2 separate regions of the Homo sapiens genome follow, and region 2 is reported to be linked to region 1. Evidence: microRNA targets listed by miRTarBase, many of them from high-throughput screens and not tested one by one. Region 1 holds a microRNA gene; the other region holds the end of a gene's coding sequence.

Region 1 (4,497 bases):
TCCCAGCAGCTCTATTAACCCTTACAGTGAACATGTCTGCTTCCTCCTTCTTTAGTACTGGTCTTTTGTTTCTGGTTTATTAGCTTTGTTGCCTCTTGCTGTGAGCCATCTAAAAATGTTTGGAAAGAGGTAGCACATAACTGCAGTTAATTTTTTTCCCAATAATATTCTCTCTAGGGCCAAGAGCCTGGCTGGCAGAGCTCGGGTGGGTCCGTGTTTCCATCCCCAGAAGAGGCCCCGTCTGCTGCCAGCCCTGGCACTGAGCCCACTGGCACCTCAGAGCCACTGGGAACAGGCACTGTCTCAGCAGAACTGTCCAGCCCATGGGCTGCCAGGGACTCGGAGCAGAGTGAGTGCCCAGGTGTATGTGTGTGGCTGTATTGGAGTGGGCGCTGGGAGGGGTCAGGGCTAGGGCCCATTCTACTGCCTCCCAGCAGGTACTGATGCTCTGACAGACCCAGTCACGGATCCTGGACCCAACCCCTCTGACACAGCCATATGGCGCCGCATCTTTCAGTCCTCGTACATTCGGGAGCAGTATGTGCTCACCCACTGCTCTGCCAGCCCCGAGCCAGGCCCAGGCTCCACAGGCAGCAGTGAGTCCCCAGGCTCACAGGGCCCTGGCTCCCCCGAAGGTAGTGCTCCCTTGGAGCCCCCTTCTCAGCAGGGCTGCCGCAGTCTGGCCTGGGGAGAACCTGCAGGCTCCCGCTCCTGTCCCCTGCCTGCACCCACACCAGCTCCATTCAAGGTGAGATCCAACCCACATTCATTCGCCTTGTATCCAGCAAATATTTATTTACCACCTGCTGTGCACCAGATATTATGTAGAGTTTACTATTAAGTCTAGCTAGAGAGAAAGGTGGGTAAATCCCCAACGATACCATGTAACAACCAGTGATGAGCACAAGGACATGTATTAAGGGGGCTTAAAGTCAGGGTGACTAATTCTGCCTGAGAGAGTCAGGAAAGTCAGAGCCATATCTGGAAGAATAAGCACGAGTTAGCCATGCAGAGAGGGAGAAGACATAAACGAAAATACAGAGACAAGCAACAACCACAAGTGGGAAATAGGGAGTGGAGTGGGATGATGCTGGGAAGGGGCCAAGGCCAGAGGTCACTGTAGGCCATAAGGAACTTGGCCTTCCTCCTCAAGCTGGTGAGCGGCCACCCAGGGTTTCAGAAAAGGGGCATGGGCCAGCTGTGCACCCATGTATGATGGTCAAGGGTTCTGCATTCCTTGACCAGTGGCCCCCATATCTCACATGCAGGTGGGGGCCTTGAGTACTGAGGTGCTGGGCCGTCAGCACAGAGCGGCTCTGGCTGGCCGAAGCCTCTCATCCCCTCCAGGCCGGGCAAACCAAGTCCCCGGCCGACCCCGGAAACCCTCTTTGGGTGCAATACTAGATGGCCCAAGTCCTGAGCCAGGCCAACAGTTGGGACAAGGCCTGGATGACTCAGGTAAGTGTTGGATGGGGAGCTGGTTTCCCTGACACCAAAGAGGCCTTGGGGAGGTAAAGCCCAGAGGACCACTCTGCCCATGCCCCTGCTGTCTTGCCTCCCCAGGAAACCTGCTCTCCCCAGCCCCTATGGACTGGGACATGCTGATGGAACCACCCTTCTTATTCACGGCTGTGCCTCCTAGTGGGGAGTTGGCCCCTCCAGCAGTGCCTCCCCAGGCTCCACGCTGCCATGTGGTGATCCGGGGCCTGTGTGGGGAGCAGCCCATGTGCTGGGAGGTGGGTGTTGGGCTGGAGACACTGTGGGGACCTGGAGATGGCTCACAGCCTCCCTCACCTCCTGTAAGAGAAGCTGCTTGGGACCAAGCACTCCATCGGCTGACAGCAGCCTCTGTGGTCCGGGACAATGAGCAGCTGGCCCTCCGAGGAGGGGCAGAGACCACAGCTGACCGGGGTGAGTTGCTCATGGGTCCAGTCAGGACCCAAAGGCATGGGCTAAAAACAGCAAAGGTAGAGGTCTGTGTGTTTGATCACTCTCTATACCTCGCTTTGATCACAAAGGATTTGAGGCTCATCACAGACAAGATAAAAAATTAAGCGGGACAATGGGAAAAAGTAAAAATAAAAGGAAACTGAGAATGAGGTTATATTAAAGGTGCATGCTGTGAGGTTATATACTCTTGCAAGGATCAGATCCAGAACTGACAAGCTTCCTAGCAGCCAGCACAGAGGGCAACGTGATCCTGTCATGATTCACAGCACCCACAACGTAAAAACAAATCTTTGTCATTTAGGAAAATACTTAAAGTTCATTTCCTCAGTTGCACTAACCACAGCTGAAGTACTCAATAGTCAAATGTGACTAGTGGCTACCACATTGGATCATGAAGAGAGAGAACATTTCCAAGTTTTATTAGTGCAGAAGCAGGTGGAGGAAAATGTGCCAGCTAATGCTTCCTCTGGGTGTTGTCCAGAGTGCTGAATTTCTGGGCAGCCAGGGGGCTCTTGCTCTGCTATGGGTTGAAGATTCAGCCTGATCACTTCTTGTCAAAGTTGGGGAGTCTGAGCTGGTTCTGGGCCTAGCAAGGCAATCTACTCTGTTAAAGTCGATAGAGGGAGAAGCTGGGGAGAACACTGCAATTTTTTCTATGAGCCCTCTGTAGAGGGTGGGTGGTGGGGGCTCCACAGACTGCTCCTTGGTTCCACAGGCCATGCCCGGAGGTGCTGGCTTCGAGCCCTTCAGACAAGTAAGGTCAGCTCTGCCCCCTCCTGCTTCACTTGCCCTGTAGCTGTGGATGCTACTACTAGGGAGGTCCTGCCTGGGGCCCTGCAGGTGTGCAGCTCAGGTAGGGGCCTCTTCTGGTGACCTCTCAGGTGCAGCTCTCACCTCACTGGCCACTCTCCTGGACAAACCTGACTCCTGTCCCATGTGCCCCTGCAGAGCCCGCTGAGCCCCCAGGAACCCCTCCTGCCTCTCACAGCCATCTAGATGCAGCTCCTCTGCCCACTGTTGTCTACTCTAAAGGTAACACCCAAAGGTAGGGAAAGGGTAGGGGCACTTGGGCTTAGAGACCGCCCCCTGGCACTGATGATCCCCACTGCAGGACTTCAGAGAGGCTCTCCAGCAGGCGCCTGGGACTCGGACCAAAATGGCAACTCCAAGCGTGCTTTGGGGGACCCTGCCACTCCCACGGAAGGTCCTCGCCGCCCACCTCCCCGTCCTCCCTGTCGGCTCAGCATGGGCCGCCGTCACAAACTCTGTAGCCCTGACCCGGGCCAGGCCAACAACAGTGAAGGCAGCGACCATGACTACCTGCCCTTGGTGAGGACTCGGGAGGTGGAGGGTGGTGCCGCCGGGGCCGGGCGCTGTTTCAGCTCGCTTCTCCCCCCACCTCCTCTCTCCTCAGGTGCGGCTGCAGGAGGCACCAGGCTCCTTCCGCCTGGACGCGCCCTTCTGCGCCGCTGTGCGCATCTCGCAGGAGCGCCTCTGCCGTGCCTCGCCCTTTGCCGTGCACCGCGCCAGCCTCAGCCCCACCTCGGCCTCATTGCCCTGGGCACTTCTGGGCCCTGGTGTTGGCCAGGGTGACAGTGCCACGGCCTCCTGCAGCCCGTCCCCCAGCTCGGGCTCTGAGGGGCCAGGCCAGGTGGACAGTGGGCGGGGCTCAGACACCGAGGCCTCCGAGGGGGCGGAAGGGCTGGGCGGCACCGACCTGCGGGGCCGGACCTGGGCCACTGCCGTAGCACTCGCCTGGCTGGAGCACCGATGCGCCGCTGCCTTCGACGAGTGGGAACTGACAGCGGCCAAGGCTGATTGCTGGCTGCGGGCCCAGCACTTGCCTGACGGCCTTGACCTGGCCGCCCTCAAGGCCGCAGCCCGAGGGCTCTTCCTGCTACTGCGCCACTGGGACCAAAACCTGCAGCTACACCTGCTGTGCTACAGCCCAGCGAACGTGTGAAGGCTGCCCCCTGCTGCTTGGGCTGGCGCCCCACCCAACACACTCAAGTCACTGCCGCCCAGGGCTGGCCTCTTGGTGCTGGGAAAGTGTAGGCTGGTGCCAGCCTGTCCCCCACTGCTTCTTACTCCCTCCCTAGAGCCCTCTTGCCCCCACAAAAAGTGCCTGCCTGTGCTCTCTCCCTCTCCTCCCACCCCACTCACACTCCCCTCCATCCTCTGAGCTCCCTGCAACACAGTGGAAGGGTAGAGAGCCACAGTCCCCAAATCCTATGCAATAAAGTGCCTCTTAGGACTGCTTGAGTGAATTCTTTATCTGCTCCATACGTGTCCCTCACAGCCTGGACCAGGCATCGGCTGCCCCCACCTCCATGTAGGTTGCACAGAGTTGGACTTAGCAAGGTTTATTTGGAAGGGCAGAGTCCAACCAACCCCAGGTCCTGAGGGTAGACTCAGGTCCTGAGGGAAAGGGGTGGACTTCAGTGGGCTTTCTTGCTGTGTTGGGTGCTCTTGGGGAAAGGCTGCGGGCCCAGCCAGAGCTGCAGCAGGATGACGGCATGGCATATGTGCAGGGCAGCAGAGCTGCAG
Region 2 (4,000 bases), not on the chromosome of region 1:
TGGAGCACGGGGCCTTGTTTCTCTGTGTCTTCATTTTGCTCACCTGTAAAGGGGGAAATGATGGCACGACTGGGGAGAGCGTCAAGAGGCAGACAGGGTGTGCTGTGAGTGAGCTGGACCCCTAAGCAGCAAGTCCTGCCGTCTTCCGAGTCATTTGGGACAGAGTCACTCCTCTAATAGGATTCTTCCACAGGGTGACTCAGGTCACTGTGGGGCCGCCTTGGTGAAAAGGTCCCCTGCTCACCCTCTGCAGGCCCTCCCCTGCCAGGGTCCACATCCCCGGGGTTGCCTCTCACTTTGACAACGACTCATTTAGGCCAGTCCTAGCTGCTGGGGAGATAAAACAGGACTGGTCCAAGGTTCAAGACAGCCAGACCCTCTCCTAACTCCAGAGGTGCCTTTCGTGCCCGGGGAGGGCTCTTCTGGCCCCAGGGTCTCTCACCCTGTCTCTCTCCTGTCCCTCCCCTCCAGCTGGATGCTGATGATGCCAAGGCAACCTTTGATGAGGAGGAAGGTCGGGATGAATACGACGAAGTGGCCATGCCTGTGTGAGGGGCGGGCCCAGGCCCTAGACCCTCCCCCACCATTCCACATCCCCACCTTCCAAGGAAAAGCAGAAGTTCATGGGCACCTCATGGACTCCAGGATCCTCCTGGAGCAGCAGCTGAGGCCCCAGGGCTGTGGGTGGGGAAGGAAGGCGTGTCCAGGAGACCTTCCACAAAGGGTAGCCTGGCTTTTCTGGCTGGGGATGGCCGATGGGGCCCACATTAGGGGGTTTGTTGCACAGTCCCTCCTGTTGCCACACTTTCACTGGGGATCCCGTGCTGGAAGACTTAGATCTGAGCCCTCCCTCTTCCCAGCACAGGCAGGGGTAGAAGCAAAGGCAGGAGGTGGGTGAGCGGGTGGGGTGCTTGCTGTGTGACCTTGGGCAAGTCCCTTGACCTTTCCAGCCTATATTTCCTCTTCTGTAAAATGGGTATATTGATGATAATACCCACATTACAGGATGGTTACTGAGGACCAAAGATACATGTAAAATAGGGCTTTGTAAACTCCACAGGGACTGTTCTATAGCAGTCATCATTTGTCTTTGAACGTACCCAAGGTCACATAGCTGGGATTTGAACTGAGCCGTGCAGCTGGGATTTGAACCAGGCCTTCTGATTTCAAGGTCCGAGCTCTGTCCTCTGTCAGTCATGCGTCCACTTTCCCTTCCCCTGTGACTCCTCCCTTCCCCACTCTGCTCCCAGCCCCTACCTTGAGACCCTCTTCTCTGGGCCCAGAGAGAGGCGTCCTGGTGAGGACAAGGTACAGGCAAGGATGATCCAGGGATTGGGCCTGGGACTCAGGCCTCCTAAGTGTTTGGTTCCTCCCTCCAAACACTCATTAGTTCACTCATTCATTCATTCCACAAACATTTACTGAGGGCCCCGGAATCAGTGGACTCCGAGGGGACTGAGACAAGCCCTGCCCTGGGGTGGGGGTGGGGGGCAAGGTACAGTTGATTCTACATTTGGATAGGGAGTGGGGGAGGGTGGGAAGGTAGGGGCGGGAGAGTGAGGGGGTTTGTAATTTATTAATTGCGTATTTTCTAAGAGTTTTCAACATAGTTTGGCTTCACACACAACTTCAGGCCCCTCATTTGAGAGCCATTATCCTCAACTCCATCTAAACTGAATCTTGGGGAGAACCCAGATCTGACCAATTGGGGTAGGAGACAGCAGGCTCTCCAAGAACATGGGCAAATTTATTTTTTTATAAAACAAAAAGATAAAAAGAGTTGAAAGACGTGAAAGTGGTGAGAGATGGAGGAAACAGAATCAGGAAGTGGTAGAAAAGAGAGGAGGTGGCTGGGCGCAGTGGCTCACGTTTGTAATCCCAGCACTTTGGGAGGCCAAGTTGGGCGGATCATTTGAGGTCAGGAGTTTGAGACCAGCCTGGCCAACATGGTGAAACCCCGTTACTACTAAAAATACAAAAATTAGCTGGGTGTCTCGTGGCAGGCACCTGTAATCCCAGCTACTTAGAAGGCTGAGGCAAGAGAATCACCTGAACCCAGGAGGTGGAGGTTGCAGTGAGCCAAGATTGCACCACTGCACTCCAGCCTGGGCAACAGAGCGAGACCCTGTCTCAAAAAAAAAAAAAAAAAAAAAAAAAAAACGGAAGGAAACATCAGCCTTGGGGGCCACAGACTCAACATGTGTGTGTGGTGGGGTTCCAGCCCAACATAGAGTAACATTATTTGTACCTCCCAGGCTAGCTCAGTCCATGGGAGGCTCTCCTGTCCCTGAAAGCTGACACCCACCTTTCACCACTTCGCCCATGCTACAGTTCAGTTTCCTCGTCTGTAAAATGGGGATGATAATGGTACCTACCTTGCAGTGTTGTTATAAGGATTAAAGGAGACAGTGCAAGAAAAGGCCTTGGTTGGTGAAGAGCCCAACCTCGGAGGGGAGCTGCTGGGATCCTCCTTATCTTGACTGGGATGTCCCTGTCTCCCCCTCCCCTTGCTCCTTGAACATGGCCAAGGAAAGTGAAAAACAAAAATTATTCACTCTGCTAGCACCCTTCCCCTTGATGCCTGGGAATAGGTTTTGCCAATAAACGTATCTGTGTTGGAGTGGCTGCCTTGCCTGAATTCCCGTTCCCAGAGTCGGGGGTCCCGGGGGTCTTGGCTGAACTAGGTGGGCATGGTGTGTGTGGCACGGGCCTGGCACAGGGCTGCATCTATGCAGCAAGGGGAGCCAGGCTGAGGTGTGACCCTGAGCCCTAGGGTGGGAGGCCAGCACCCAGAGAGTGGGTAGGGAGCAAGAGATGAGATTATGCTCTGAGACTCCTTCCTCTCCTGAATAAGCAAGACCTGTGGGGGTGGGAGGAGGGACTGTAAGGGGACCTTGCCCCCTGCTCCTTATACTTGTGAGCCCCCAATTCCCTTTAGATCAGTGGACCCCTTACCGGGAAGCTGGACAGCACCTTTGACAGAGATGACCAGAGAAGAAAACAGAGGCCCAGAGAGGGCACATGGCCACACAGGCACAGCGTCTCCTGGCCAGCTTTCTGCTTACCCTCATCCTGGTCCCCTTTGGAGGCTCTGTCCCCTACCCCCAACCACTTCCAGCAATTCTAGGGTGTTGCTGGGCTAGGTGTCCCCCACCCCGGGAGAGGAGGGTTCCAGGACTGGACATCTGCCCTCCCTAGACTTCCAACGAGAGGTCAGTGCAGGGCTGGGCCGCCTGGCTTCCTGCCCTAGATCTATATTTACTGCCTATCCCCAGCTGACCCCTCCCAGGCTAGCCAGGGCAGCTGCCAAAGGGTCAGAGAGCTAACTCTGCCAGGGGAGAGCCGTCCCAGCGTCCACCTCCCACACACAGCAGCTGCAGATCCCCACAGCCCTGGCCCTGTCCCCAGGGCTTGCCAGACCCTCCATTCCCCACGTCCATGTACCCAGAAGTCAGGCTATGAGACAAGCCTGAAGAGAGCTCAGGCCACCGGCATCCCCAGGCCTCTTCCACAGGCTGGCTGTGCAACCTGGGAAAAGCCAGTCCCCTCTCTGGGTCTCCGTTTTCTACTGGGCTAATTCTTCCTGGTAGATCCTTTCCATCGCCTGGAAAAGGATCCTTTCCATCCTTTTCCAGCTCATCATATCTGGACTTAGGGGAATAAATGCTGCCTCAATTTGGGGGACCACTTCCTGCCCCTGCCAAGGGTTAAGCCCCTCTCCATGTTTTTAATTGCAATTCTGAAACACTACCTGGAGCTTGGGCAGCAGGGGAGGCTGGGACCCTGGCCAGAATCCCTAGGGCATTGCTACACAGTGGGGCTCTGGGACCAGCAGCAGTGCCATTTCTAGGGAGCTTGCCAGTAATCTAGGAGCTCAGGCCCTGCCCCAGAGTTGAGAAATAAGAATCTGCATTTTAACCAGATCCCCAGGTGATGTCCAGCACGGGAAGCTGGGCCTTAAGAACAGAGAGCCAGGGAGCAGAGCGAGGGTGTGCAGACT

The links. Region 1 holds the annotated microRNA hsa-miR-1224-3p (CCCCACCUCCUCUCUCCUCAG, at 3,344-3,364, shown strand). A microRNA usually pairs through its seed, bases 2 to 8, with sites in the 3' UTR of a target mRNA and lowers its output. Matches are read on the target gene's strand: a 7mer-m8 pairs with bases 2 to 8, a 7mer-A1 pairs with bases 2 to 7 and ends in A, and an 8mer does both.
Region 2: miRTarBase lists SLC4A1 as a target of hsa-miR-1224-3p. Seed matches in the 3' UTR shown: 7mer-m8 at 889-895 and 7mer-A1 at 1,534-1,540.

The regions. Positions count from the first base shown.
Region 1 is chr3:184,238,126-184,242,622 of GRCh38, forward strand. MIR1224 (microRNA 1224) reads left to right here and starts at 3,280; the gene lies at 3,280-3,364. VWA5B2 (von Willebrand factor A domain containing 5B2) reads left to right here. Exons shown (of 20, transcript NM_001390846.1): 13 at 178-349; 14 at 438-748; 15 at 1,269-1,458; 16 at 1,564-1,911; 17 at 2,666-2,803; 18 at 2,899-2,982; 19 at 3,062-3,279; 20 at 3,365-4,204. The coding sequence ends at 3,913. ALG3 (ALG3 alpha-1,3- mannosyltransferase) reads right to left here. Exons shown (of 9, transcript NM_005787.6): 9 at 4,176-4,497. The coding sequence ends at 4,389. RefSeq lists a silencer at 3,796-4,090.
Region 2 is chr17:44,247,010-44,251,009 of GRCh38, reverse strand. SLC4A1 (solute carrier family 4 member 1 (Diego blood group)) reads left to right here. Exons shown (of 20, transcript NM_000342.4): 20 at 472-2,620. The coding sequence ends at 552. Among named protein-coding and RNA genes, the nearest start is that of SLC4A1, 19 kb to the left of the region's middle.